Linked DNA regions of Homo sapiens. The protein of the gene in region 2 purifies or fractionates together with the protein of the main gene of each other region. This does not show direct contact. Each region holds a gene or a part of one and is shown on either strand. Other genes may lie near its edges.

Evidence for each region. The genes of interacting proteins can lie anywhere in the genome.
Region 1: the proteins of ATG4B (region 2) and CCDC124 purify together in Homo sapiens (affinity purification with mass spectrometry; one large-scale study listed by BioGRID and IntAct). This does not show direct contact.
Region 3: the proteins of ATG4B (region 2) and KRT4 purify together in Homo sapiens (affinity purification with mass spectrometry; one large-scale study listed by BioGRID and IntAct). This does not show direct contact.
Region 4: the proteins of ATG4B (region 2) and NUP50 purify together in Homo sapiens (affinity purification with mass spectrometry; one large-scale study listed by BioGRID and IntAct). This does not show direct contact.

Annotation. Positions count from the first base shown.
Region 1 is NC_000019.10:17,931,883-17,935,814, reverse strand, and holds the start of CCDC124 (coiled-coil domain-containing protein 124), read right to left. Parts: upstream 2,801-3,932; 5' UTR 2,767-2,800; intron 720-2,766; exon of another isoform or gene 624-719; intron 1-623. UniProt on the Homo sapiens protein: Ribosome-binding protein involved in ribosome hibernation: associates with translationally inactive ribosomes and stabilizes the nonrotated conformation of the 80S ribosome, thereby promoting ribosome preservation and storage.
Region 2 is NC_000002.12:241,644,193-241,647,692, reverse strand, and holds part of ATG4B (cysteine protease ATG4B), read right to left. Parts: intron 1-3,500. UniProt on the Homo sapiens protein: Cysteine protease that plays a key role in autophagy by mediating both proteolytic activation and delipidation of ATG8 family proteins. Required for canonical autophagy (macroautophagy), non-canonical autophagy as well as for mitophagy.
Region 3 is NC_000012.12:52,808,583-52,811,116, forward strand, and holds part of KRT4 (keratin, type II cytoskeletal 4), read right to left. Parts: intron 2,235-2,534; coding exon 2,174-2,234; intron 897-2,173; coding exon 801-896; intron 269-800; coding exon 104-268; intron 1-103.
Region 4 is NC_000022.11:45,173,925-45,177,424, reverse strand, and holds part of NUP50 (nuclear pore complex protein Nup50), read right to left. Parts: intron 1,532-3,500; coding exon 1,345-1,531; intron 1,184-1,344; exon of another isoform or gene 1,043-1,183; intron 1-1,042. UniProt on the Homo sapiens protein: Component of the nuclear pore complex that has a direct role in nuclear protein import. Actively displaces NLSs from importin-alpha, and facilitates disassembly of the importin-alpha:beta-cargo complex and importin recycling.

The DNA of each region.
Region 1 (3,932 bases), on a different chromosome or scaffold from region 2:
GGTCAGGAGTTCAAAACCAGTCTAGTCAACATGGTGAAACCCCGTGTCAACTAAAAATAAATAAAAATTGCTGGGTGTGGTGGCGGACACCTTTAATCCCAGCTACTCAGGAGGCTGAGGCAGGAAAGCCGCTTGAACCTGGGAGGCAGAGGTTGCAGTGAGCCGAGATCGTGCAACTGCACTCCAGCCTAGGCGGCAGAGTGAGACTCACTCTCAAAAAAAACCAAAAAGCTGGGTGTGGTGGCACATGCCTATAATCCCAGCTACTCGGGAGGCTGAGGCAGGAGAATCACTTGAACCCGGGAGGCGGAGGTTGCAATGAGCTGAGATCACACCACTGCACTCCAGCCTAGGCGACAGAGCGAGACTCCATCTCAAAAAAAAAAAAAGGTGTACAATTCAGTGTTTAAGTATATTCACAGCGTTGTGCAAATACCACCTCTGTCTAGTTCCAGAACACTTGCACCCCCCAAAAGAGGCCACATCACCATCAGCAGTCACTCCCTATTCCTCTTCCCCTAGCCCCTGGTAACCATCAATCTGCTTTCTGTCTCTGTGGCTTTCCCTGTTCTGGACATTTCAGTCCATATCAATGGAATCACAGGCCGGGTGCGATCACTCACGTTTGTAATCCCCGTGCTTTGGGAGGCTGAGGCAGGAGGATTGCTTGAGGCCAGGAGTTCAAGACCAGCCTGGGCAACATAGCAAGAGTCCGTCTCTACAAAATAAAAAATAATTAGGCACAGTGGCTTGTGCCTGTAGTTCCAGCTACTTAGGAGGCTGAGGTGGAAGGATCGCCTGAGCGTAGGAGGCTGAGGCCACAGTGAGCTATGATTGTGCCACTGCACTCCAGCCTGGGCAACAGAACAAGACCCTGTCTCTTAAAAGAAAAAAAAAAAAAGGAAACAAGGAAACAAGGCACCAATACATACATGATACAATGTGGTTGAACCTCAACAACACAATACTAAGTGAAAGAAGCCAGACACAAAAGGCCACACAGTGTGAGAGTACATTTATTTATTTATTTTGGAGACAGGGTCTCACTCTGTCGCCCAGGCTGGAGTGCAGTGGCGAAATCTCGGCTTACTGCAGCCTTGACCTCCTGGGCTCAAGTGATCCTCCCACCTGAGCCTCCTAAGTAGCTGGGACTATAGGTGCAGGCCACCATGCCTAGCTTTTTTTTTTTTTTTTTAAGGCAGGGTCTGACTATGTTGCCCAGGCTGGCCTTGAACTCCTGGGCTCAAGTGATCCTCCCGCCTCGGCCTTCCAAAGTGCTGGGATTACAGGCCTGAGCCACTGCGCCTGGCCCTTCGTTCCTTTTTATGGCTGAATATTCCTCCACTGCATGGATACGCCACATTTTGTTTATCCATTGTCCACAGCTAGACATTTGGGCTGTTTCCACGTTGGGGCTTTTTTTTGTTTTGAGACGGAGTTTTGCTCTTTCACCCAGGCTGGAATGCAGTGGCACAATCTCGGCTCACTGCAACCTCCACCCACCCGGTTCAAGCAATTCTCCTGTTTCAGCCTCCCAAGCAGCTAGGATTACAGGCACCTGCCACCACGCCCGGCTAATTTTTGTATTTTTATAGAGATGGGGTTTCACCATGTTGGCATGTGCCACCATGCCTATCTGATTTTTGTATTTTTAGTAGAGACGGGGTTTCACTATGTTGGCCAGGCTGGTCTCAAACTCTTGACCTCAAGTGATCCGCTTGCCTCGGCCTCTCAAAGTGCCTGGATTACAGGTGTGAGCCACAGTGCCTGGCAATTTCTGCTGTTTAAGCCACCCAGTCTGTGGTATTAGTTATGACAGCCCAAGCTGGAAATACAGACACTTTTCTCTGTGTAGTAAACACTCACTCACTTGCACACGTCATTCAATAAATATGTACTGGGCACCTAATACGTGTGCGATGCTGGGGAAAGAGGTGGCACAAATGAGCTTTCTGCCTGCATGGGACTCCCAGAGAAGAGCCAACACATGCAATCAGAGTCCTAATAAGGACACGCAGGGCGCCGGGGAAGCCCGGAGAGGGCTTCTGACCCAGCCTGGGTCAAAGGGCTTCCTAAAGGAGACATCTAAGGAAAAGTCTGAATGAGTGGGGGAGAGCGCAGCCTGCACGCGGGATGCAGGAGGTAGGCTGGAAAAGGGGGCGATTTGTATTCCAGGGAGATGGGAAGGTGTGGAGGGCGTTAGAGCCGGGAAGCCCAATCTATGGGTCACACAAGCCCTCTGGGGTTAGTGAGGAGGTGGACTCCCCAGATGGCAGGAGCTGGGAGCCCAGGCGGTACCCAGGGAGTGGCTCAGGCTGGGCGAGGGGCACACTTAGAAGCGAATCAAGACCCATGGGGATTAAGACCCCACGGATGTGAAGGTAAAATAACAGAATACAAAATTCAACAATGCCTCCTCTAAGCAGCCCTCCCGGCTATCCCTTTTGAAGTCCCCCACCACTAATCCCCCTACAAGAGGCCGGGGGAGTCCGCGCCCAACTCTGTCCCTCTCGAGACCAGAAGCTGCCTAGGGGCAGTCCGGGGCCAGGTGGCCTCGAACATGCTGTCGCGTCGGGCTTCAATCGTCTAGTCTGGAAATGGGCATCGCCCCCAACTAGGTGCGGTTCAGACTGGACGCCAGAAGTGCTCCTGCCTCCCAGCACCCCTCCTCCAGCCTTCCCAGGGGATGGTCCCAGGCCAAGCAGCCCCCGCCCCGCGCCTCTGCTCCCCGAACCCGGGTTCCGCCCGCGCCGCAGACGCTCCTACCTTCTTACCCCAGCGCCGGCCCGGTCGCGCCTCCGTGACGTCATCATGGGGCCTGCGCGCTGAGCTCCTGGCGGCGCGCACTCATTGCGCCTCAGTACCGCCGCCATTTTGGTAAAGAAAAAGATGGCTGGGCCTCGGACCCAAGCCAGGGTAGTCAGCCACTTCTTTGTCTCTTCAAAAAGAGGACACTTAATACGCCCTCATTCCCTACGCTCATTTAATATGTTGATGAACCAGGAGGGGCGGGCAGAGGCGAAAATCTAGAACATTGCCTTTACCAAGATGGCCGATGCCCGGATGAAAGATGGCAGCTGCGACTACACACGTGGTCCGGCGGCTTCAGCCTGGAGCGGCCCGGCCGCCAGAGCGCGCCCGCGGTCCATGAGGGGAGGTGGACCCAGTATAGCCCTGAGGAAGCCTCTCCGTAGCTCTTCGCAATCCCTTAACGCTTTAAAAGTGCTTTCCTAGTCCTGAGTCTCTGCGTCCCACTGGTGACGCTGGGGCGGGGCTAGGAGAGGGGAGATAAATGGGGCAGAGAAATTAACACACACCGCGCAGTCCAGGTAGGGAAACCGAGGCTCAGAGAGACCAGGAATTGAGTTTGGCCAAAATGTAACCGCGAGTAGGCTCATAACCGCGAGTAGGCTCAAATTCCGTCTCTTGCTCCTGCCAGTGCCTCTTCCTGGATTGCTGACCTGCTCCCCACTTCTGCAATATTATTTATTAATTTTATTTAGAAATTAGGTTTGAGGCGCCAATTTGTCTTAGGCACTATACTTTAGATTTTCTGCATTTACTACTTCTCGGTGTTCTCAACAGTAAAAATGGCAGTATTAGGGGTCTAAGGTTACACTGGTCCTGACTGTGGAGAGGGAAAAGCAAATGCTTTGGGGGCAGTTCAGGTAGGAGTAGTTGACCACAGAGTCCATTCCCTAAAAGGCATCCCCCCAGCGACCTTGCTGGGACCTAAATCCCAGTGCGCGATGCACCTCCCCTGCTCTAACGCCTCCCCTGGGTTCCCATTGTCCCGCAAGACTCCTCCCACCTCCCACCCCATCTCCCTTGGCTTCCCTCACCCTCCCATTAGCTCTCTGCTCAGGTCGCACCAGCCCCCTTCTTACAAATTGCCAGGCGCAGTCTTGCCTCAGGGAGTTCCCCCAGGAATT
Region 2 (3,500 bases):
TTATTCTCAAGGAAAAAGGATGAAAACACCACCGGTCTAATTTCTTTTCTTTTTTTTTTTTTTTTTTTTTGAGACGGAGTCTCACTCTGTCGCCCACCAGGCTGGAGTGCAGTAGCGCGATCTCGGCTCACTGCAAGCTCTGCCTCCCGGCTCATGCCATTCTCCTGCCTCAGCCTCCTGAGTAGCTGGGACTACAAGCGCCCGCCACCACGCCTGGCTAATTTTTTGTATTTTTTTTAGTAGAGACGGGGTTTCACTGTGTTAGCCAGGATGGTCTCAATCTCCTGACCTCATGATCCTCCCGCCTCGGCCTCCCAAAGTGCTGGGATTACAGGCGTGAGCCACTGCGCCTGGCCACCACCGGTCTAATTTCAACACTGCAAGACAATGATTCCATCTTGCTGTTGGAACATTCTTCTCATGTTTGACACCGTTCCAAGGCACCAGCTTTGAACTAAAGATACACATATCTTTTATTTAAAGTACAGCAGAGCTAAATGAACACTGGCAAGTATCTCTTTGTAGACTACAGATGTTCCTTAATTAGGATGGGATTATGTCCAATAAACCCATTGTAAATTGAAAATACTTAGGTCAAAAATGCACTGAGGCCAGGCACAGGGGCTCATGCCTGTAATCCCAGCACTTGGGGAGGCCAAGGCGGGTGGATCACCTGAGGTCAGGAGTTGGAGACCAGCCTGGTCAACATGGTGAAATCCCATCTCTATTAAAAACACAAAAAGTTACTCGGGCATGGTGGCAGGTGCCTGTAATCCCAGCTACTCGGGAGGCTGAGGCAGGAGAATTGCTTAAACCCAGGAGGCGGAGGCTGCAGTGACCTGAGATCGCGCCACTGCATTCCAGCCCAGGTGGGAGAGTGAAACTCTGTCTCAAAAAAAAAAAAAAAAAAAGCATTGAATACACGTAATCTACCTAACATCATAGCTTAGCCTAGCCTGCCTTAAATGTGCTCAGAACACTTACATTAGCCTACAGTTGGGCAAACTCAGCTGGCAACACAGTGCCCTGTAGAGCAGGGGTCATTCCCCCTTCTCATGATGTGGCTGACGAGGAGCTATCTGGCATCTCGAGAGTATCTGGAGGCATACTGCTAGCCCAGAAAAAGATCAAAATTCAAAACGTCAAGTATGGTTTCCATAGAATGCATACTGCTTTCACACTATCGTAAAGTCAAAAAATTGTAAGTCAAACCATGGTAGTTTGGAGACCATCTGTACTTCAGAAGAATGTGGCGTATGTCATCAGGAAAAGGACCATATTGTTGAATCAGTAACAGTCTGCAGTAACAGAATCTGGAAGCTGAGAAACTTCTAGGATGTCTAGTTTCCCATATTAAAAATATAAATGGTAAAGGAATGAGAGAAGTATAGATAAGGAAGAAAAGGAAAAAGGCTCCCTCTGAAAGCAGGGTCACGAGGCCTGAGCGGCTGTGAAGTTGAGGGATTTTCATCACGGACGCAGTAAAATGCACAGCAGGTGTATTTCTTAGGTTTATCACCAAACTTTATAGGCAAGGAAGCCAACTTCAGAGTGAAGGGAATAAGAGGTGTTCCATTAAGTTCAAATACACCACCACACCTCCAGCTATAACTGTGAAAATTACAGGTGTGTGGCCTCAGATTGCTCACTGTATAAACCATCAAGGAGACCAGGAAACCCCAGGGGAGCAAATCCAAGGAGCAATCACGGTGCTTGGCAGTGAACAGGAGTGGCGCAGCCACGGCGAACGTGACCCATGAGGTCCCTAAGGAGGGCTCCCACACCGTGCCCCAAGCTGCTCTGCTCCTCCGTCCAGAGAAACGCACTCCGGCCCTCCCCGAGAATCCTGCCCTCTGTTGGGAGCGAGTCATACATTCCCCTAGGGCTAGTGGCGGACACTCTGAAAACATGATCCCTTGCTTCTCCCACCACACTGCACCCTCCTCTCGGTACTGTGGAGGACGCTGCAAGTGGGGAGTGTCCACACGTCACACCTGGAGCACGTTCCTGACAGCTGGAGCGCCAGCTGTGGAGTCAGAAGTCTGAGCCCACCACTGAGCAGTCACGCAACCTTACAGGCTAGTGACCTTCTTGTGACTTGGTGTCCTCACTGTGAAACGGACAAGTCAAGGTGCAGGAAAAGCTCTAAACTGCACGGGAGCAGTAACCACTCTTTCAGGGCCAGCCTTCTCAGATCACTGAAACGGGTGAGCAGTCACGAACCGGCATGGATGGGAGGTATTCTGTAAGCAGAGGTGCAGCACAGAGTACAAGGTCAACAGAGACCCAACCAAACATGAGTCTCTTTACTAACACTGAATCCAACATAACGTCCTTTCCTCCAAGAGTGACTGCATTTAGAGAGCAAGAGCCTGCCCCCGGCCTCACGGGCTGGCTCCAAGGACCAAAGAGACCTGCAGCGATTCCTACAAAAGAGCCAATAAAGACTCTCAGACTCGCATCTCTTCAGTTATGAGGAGGTCTTCCCTGTACTCTAGGGGCCCCACACTGTCCCTCTCATGCTGGAGGACAGGAAGGAATGCCCTCGGCAGGCCCTCCGAGCAGAACTCACCCCTCCTGGACACCCTCGCAGCTCCAGCTGAAGAGGAAGACACAATGAGGAGCCATGGACTGAGGCATCAGAACGGTACAAAGACCTCCCTGACCTTCCAGATCTTACTTTATAATGGAGGAAGATAACTTTTTTGGAATTAACACTTCTAATTTCTTTCTTTTTTTTTTTTTGAGATGGAGTTTTGCTCGTCACCCAGGCTGGAGTGCAATGGCACGATCTCGGCTCACTGCAACCTCCGCCTCCCGGTTTCAAGCGATTCTCCTGCCTCAGCCTCCCGAGTAGCTGGGATTACAGGTGTGTGCCACCACGCCTGGCTAATTTTGTATTTTTAGTAGAGATGGGTTTCTCCCATGTTGGTCAGGCTGGTCTCGAACTCCTCATCTCAGATGATCCGCCCACATCAGCTTCCGAAAGTGCTGGGATTACAGGCATGAGCCACCGCAACCGGCCGACACTTCTGATTTCTACTGAGGTTTGGTTCTGGAGTCTGACAGCCTGCTCGATAGCTACAGGCAGACCGCGCCCGGCCAACACTTCTGATTCCTACTGAGGTTTGTTTCTGGAGTCTGAGAGCCTGGTCGATAGCTACAGGACAGACACAGGCCTGGACTTCTTCCAGCCTCAGTCTCCTCACCCATGAAATGGGGCACAGCCACCAGTTTTCCAAGTGGGGTGAGAACCCACAATGGGTGCAAAACTAACGCTCACAATCACTAACATCTGCAGATCGACCAACACGATGATTCCATTCCCAAACGTTCCTTCTGGCTCTGTCACCCAAGGGTCTGGCTCTGTCACCCAAGCTGGAGTGCAGTGGTGTGATCTCAGCTCACTGCAACCTCCCCCTTCCGGCCTCAAGGGATCCTCCCACCTCAGCCTCCTGAGTAGCTGGGACTACAGGCATGCACCGTCATGCCTAATTTTT
Region 3 (2,534 bases), on a different chromosome or scaffold from region 2:
TATCTGACTTCTATTGGGCTTGAGCTAATGATCACCTGTTCACAGACATCAAAAGCAGAGCCCCAGAGCCAGCCCCATCTCCTGAGAGATCCATACCACCCACCTTGGTCTGGTACAGGGCTTCAGCCTCAGCCTTGCTCCTCTGGGCAATCTCCTCGTACTGGGCACGGACCTCGGCAATAATGCTGTCCAGGTCCAGGTTGCGGTTGTTGTCCATGGAAAGGACCACGGACGTGTCGCTGACATGGGTCTGCATCTGGGACAGCTCCTGCAGGGCAAATGTCTCACATCAGCCCCCCCAGGAAAGCCTTCACTGACCTGATACAGGCTCAAGTAGGAGCAGAGCTGGCATTCACAATGTGTAGGAAGGGGAGAGACAGGTAAAGTTCTAAGGAGAAATCAAGTGGTTGTGACAGTTCAGGATGGAAGAGCAATGCTTCTAGTCTTTACTGGTCCCCAGGAACCATAAGCCACTCTAATGCAGTGAGTGCCGGTGTGTTGGAATGGAAGGGAAGGGAATGGATCCATTTCACCAGAAAAAAAATGCTAGACAGCAATGAATTCTATTCCAAGCACTCTTTAGATCTAATCACCCCGTCTAAGACCAAGACCACATCTGGTTCTAAGAATCTCCCAGTTGAATTTCCCACTTCAAACCTTTCTATGCATGACCTTGATGAGAACCCACTGCCCTAAAATAAGGGAGCTGGAGTCCTTTCAAAAAACTGTGAATCCCAACCAGCAGCGTCACAGATGGGGGATTCCCTTTCCCTGGATGGAGGGGAGGATGGAGCCCTCACCGCATCATAGAGGACCTTCAGGAAGTTGATCTCGTCATTAAGACTGTCCACCTTGGCCTCCAACTCCACCTTGTTCAGGTAGGCAGCATCCACGTCCTGCAGAGGAGTAAGGAGGATAAGAGATGAGGAGCAGGAATGCCAGTAGGAGGACGGGTTACTAAGTGACACCGACAGGTGTTCTCAGCAGCATTTAGGAAAGACTACTCAGCAGCAGGGGAGCTGGTGGGAGACCAATTATTTTATATATTCTTCCCTAGAGCCACCTGAAGACATGGAAGTTGATTATCCAAATAGGCTATTCTAACAGTATGGAGATCTCTCAAAGAACTAAAAATAGAACTACCATTGGATCCAGCAATCCCAGTGCTGGAATTCCACTCAAAGGAAAAGAAATCATTGTAACAAAAGGATACCTGCACTCATGTTTATCGCAGCACAATTCACAATAGCAAAGATACCAAATCAACCTAAGTGTCCATCAACAGATGATTGGATAAAGAAAATATGATACATATACACAATAGAATACTACTCAGCCATAAAAAGAGAATGAAATTATGTCTTTTTGCAGCAATGTGGATGGAACTGGAGGCCATTATCTTAAGTGAAACAACTCAGGCACAGAAAGACAAATAACACATGTCCTCACTTATAAGTGGGAGCTAAATCATGTGTACATGTGGACATAGAGCATGGAATGATAGACAATGGAGACTTGAAAAAGGGAGGGCTGGGAGGGGCTGGATAATGAGAAATTACTTATTGGATATAATGTATGTTATCCCAGCAATGGATACTCTAAAAGCCCTGACTTCACCACAACACAAACTATCCACGTAACAAAATTACACTTGTACCCCATGAATTTATAAAAATAAAAATCAGCTGGGTGCGGTGGCTCACAACTGTAACCCCAGCACTTTGGGAGGCTGAGGCAGGCGGATGACCTGAGGTCAGGAGTTTGAGACCAGCCTGACCAACATGGAAAAACCCTGTCTCTACTAAAAATACAAAATTAGCCAGGCGTGGTGGTGCATGCCTGTAATCCCAGCTACTCGGGAGGCTGAGGCAGGAGAATCGCTTGAACCCAGTAGGTGGAGCTTGCAGTGACCCAAGATCGCGCCATTGCACTGCAGCCTGGGCAAAAAGAGTGAAGCTCCATCTCAAAAAAAAAAGCAAATAGGCTTTCCTCCCAACCTTAATTTCTTAGAACCTGGTTTGGTTACCCACTTTCCTTGACTATATAGATCTAGATAGTTCCAAGTGAAGCAGGGATGAGGCAGAGATGGACCAAACCCATGACTTCAGCCAAAGACCACTCCCCAAGGGAAGGGGCACCCTGAAGGCACTCCCTACCATCCTTCGTCTCTTACCTTCTTTAGGACCACAAAGTCATTCTCGGCTGCTGTGCGTTTGTTGATCTCCTCTTCATACCTGGGGGTGGGCACGGGGAGAAAAAGACAAAAACCCACAGTGAGCTGGTGTTTCTCAGATCTCTGCTGCTTGTTTTCAAGCATTTCCAAACAAATTTGGAAATATCCACGTAATTAGTTGCATTTCCCATATTCATACAGATATTCATTTAACCTATATTCATTGAATATAGGAAGTACCCGTTTAGGCCAGGGTTTATTCAGATACATGAAAACCAAACTTTAAAGAGACTGTTTTCGATAGAAAACCCAGCAATGATGTAGTTGATTTAATGTCCCTGAAAGGGCTGTCCTTTTGGCC
Region 4 (3,500 bases), on a different chromosome or scaffold from region 2:
CAAATCGCTTGAGCTCAGGAGTTTGAGACCAGCCTGGGCAACATGGCAAAACCCCATCTCTACAAAAAATGTAAAAATTAGCTGAGTGTGGTGGTGTGTACCTATAATCCCAGCTACTGGGGAGGCTGATGGGGGAGGATCACTTGAGCTCGGGAGGTTGTGGCTGCAGTGAGCCAAGACCACACCAATACACTCCAGCCTAGGTGACAGAGCGAGACCCTGTCTCAATGCAGTACTCTGGGGATGAGAAACCAGTGGATACGAACACTCACTTTTCCTATCTAAGAGTTATGCTGGTCTGACTATGGGACTTGAACATCCAAGGGGGTGCTGAAACCAATCCCCAGGATACTAGGGGATGGCTGTAGTTAAAAATCTTAACAGAGGCCGGGCACAGTGGCTCGCGGATGTAATCCCAGCACTTTGGGAGGCCAAGGCAGGTGGATCACAAGGTCAAGAGATCAAGACCATCCTGGCCAACATGGTGAAACCCCGTCTCTACTAAAATTACAAAAATTAGCTGGGCATGGTGGTGCATGCCTGTAGTCCCAGCTACTCGGGAGGCTGAGGCAGGAGAATCGCTTAAACCCAGAGGCGGAGGCTGCAGTGAGCAGAGGTCGCGCCACTGCATTCCATCCTGGTGACAGAGCAAGACTCCAACTTAGAAAAAACAACAACAACAACAAAACTTAACAGAGAACACTTATTTTACATCACACTAAACATTCTGCCAAATTAAAATCAAACAGTATATACTCTCAGAATAATCAGCTAAATACAACCCAACCAGTCAGGATCATTTCCAAGCTTTTAACCCGTGATCCTATTCTCTGTTGCTAATTCCAAGAGTTTTTGACTGACTCCCTCAAAACAGGATCAGGCAATCAACACATCCCATACCCAAACAAACCTAGCGTGGGAGGCACCCTGGCCACGGAGAACCGCATCTGAGTTCCCAGTAGCCAGTTTGGTGCGAGGCACACAGAAAGCCCTTGGCACACAAAGGGTCTACATAGCATTTTCTTTTCTCTCTCGACTCTAGGTCAATTCTGAGGGCCACTCTCCTTTCAAAATTGAACATTCTGAGGCCTAGAGGCCAGGGTCACACAACTGGTAGCCAGCAGAGCTGAGAACAAAGCTGAGATGTTTTGGATCAAAAGCCTGTGCTCTACCCACTTACTCTGTAAGTAACCGACACCTCCCTAAGTTCCATCTCTTTCATTATCACCCTGGTTTTGCTCACACAGTTCCAAGACACAGGGTAGCTATAAGAAAAACATCTTTGTAAAGCTATTTTCCATAGATGATACTTACACAGGCGGCTGGGGGATGGGAGCTACTTACCAAAGGCTACCTTGGGATCTGCCGCTGCCTTTGCACTGGCGAAGGGAGGGGCACTGGTTATGTTGTTTCCATTCGACAGTCCTTCCAAAGGCTTCCCTCCAGCGCCACTACCAAATCCAGAAAAGCGTCCTCCTCCAGAAGGTACCACCAAACCTTTAAAACCTTTAAAGGCTCCTCCAGTGTCAGACTGAAGTATGAAGGAGGAGCACACATTAGGTAAGTGTACTTTCTATTACCAAAAAGCAAGTGAGTGACAACAGCATCTTGGCTAAACAGCACCTAGACTCCACATGCAGTCAGCGTTATAAGGCAAACTGCTGGCACAAGCAGAAATAAGAAATGAGATGGGAAGATTGTATTCATAAGAACAGCTTTGCAACCCAAAGCTGCTTTCCTGAAACAGGCAGGAAGGACATTTAAAAAATATATTATGTGTATTTTTAGGACATAAAAGGTAAGAAAGACTAATGCAATAAACCTATGTACCCACCACCCAGCCTCAGAATTACTGAAGCGGCTCAATAAAACTAAATCCCAAATGAAAGATACTTCATGTACTACTCAGTCAAAGACCATTTACTGCCTAAAGAAATGATAAAAACATCAAGGTAGGTTAACTAAAAATATCCATTTGCCTAATTTCTTAACATCTGTGGCTTGCAACTGCTTTCAGCCTACAAAAACTTAGATGATCGAGTCTCAAATCTACATGTTCCTGTTAGCTGAACAACCCGGGACAACTTCTTACTCTCCTTTTCCTCACTGCTTCCTTAAACTCGATTGTTTTAACAAGGTTTTTCTAGTAGGCCTTTTCCCTTTGTGCTAGCCTGCTCACATCTCTAACCTAAGATGCTCTGGAAATGTGTGGCATTCCGTATGAATTCTAAAGCTCCTCTCTGCCCCTGGAACTTTTGGAGAAAGGTTCCTCGGTTTATAGTGCTTTGCTAAATAAACTCACCACAATTTTTAGAAGCCCTTTTTTGTTGTTGTTCGAAGAAGTGATTACATTATAGGAAGTGATCTGCTTCTTAGACCGAACATCTAAGAGACAGTTCACAAATCTTAAGTTTCCACATGAGTGAATTATAACCATGATTTCACCAGAAAAAAAAAAAAATTAAACTGGAACCCCTTCATTTACTAAATGGGCCAGTCAGCCTAAATATTACTGCATGTTTTTCCAAAACCAAAGTTTCAATCTCATCTACAGAATTTCAGATGTTTACTGACCACTGATATATTTAAGGCAATAAAATGAGGCAAAGAATGGAAAATTGTAACTTGTATGAGTTTTAATGCACATAATAAACAGAGCTTAGATTCTGTTGCTCTACATTTGATTTTTCATCATTTAAAATTCCAAACCCGCCACACTGATAGCTGTCATTTTAAAACAATGATTCATGGACAAACTATAAAGCCATTAAGTGGCTTTTCAGAGCCTCCGATTTTGCACAAAGTTAAAAGTCACTTGTAGGGATTTTAGAAATTGCTGATAGTAAATTGGCTCTAGAATCACAACAAAAATTCAAGAACCACAAGTTAAACAAAAAAAAGATATTCAGAAAAATGAGAGTAAAAGTTGATTAAGATATTCATCAAGGGGCCAGGTGTGGTGGCTCATGCCTATAATACCAGTACTTTGGGAGGCCGAGACATTCAGGTCACTTGAGCCCAGGAGTTTGAAACCACCCTGGGCAACAGAGTGAGACCCCCTGTCTACAAAAATGCAAAAATTAGCTGGGTGTGGTGGCGCATGCCTGTAGTCCCAGCTACTCAGGAGGCTGAGGCAGGAGGATTGCTTCAGCTCAGGAGGCGGCGGTTGCAGAGAGTCAAGATTGTGCCACCGCACTCCACCCTGGGCGACAAAGACCCTGTCTCAAAAAAAAAAAAAAAAGGGAAAATACCCATGTGGGCTCCTCCATGGGCACTGACACAGCCCCACATCCCTCAATTTCCCTCATTGGTTTTACTGTTCCCCATGGCACTTACAGAGGAAAAATTAATACTATGTATTTGTTCTCTTCCATAGGGCAAGATGATTTTGGTCTTTTTTACTCACCAATACATCTCCAGTGCTTAGCAGATCTACTGAATCCACTATTTAGGAAAAGCCGCATTTCAGCATTCTGGTGGGTGACATGACATTTAATTGT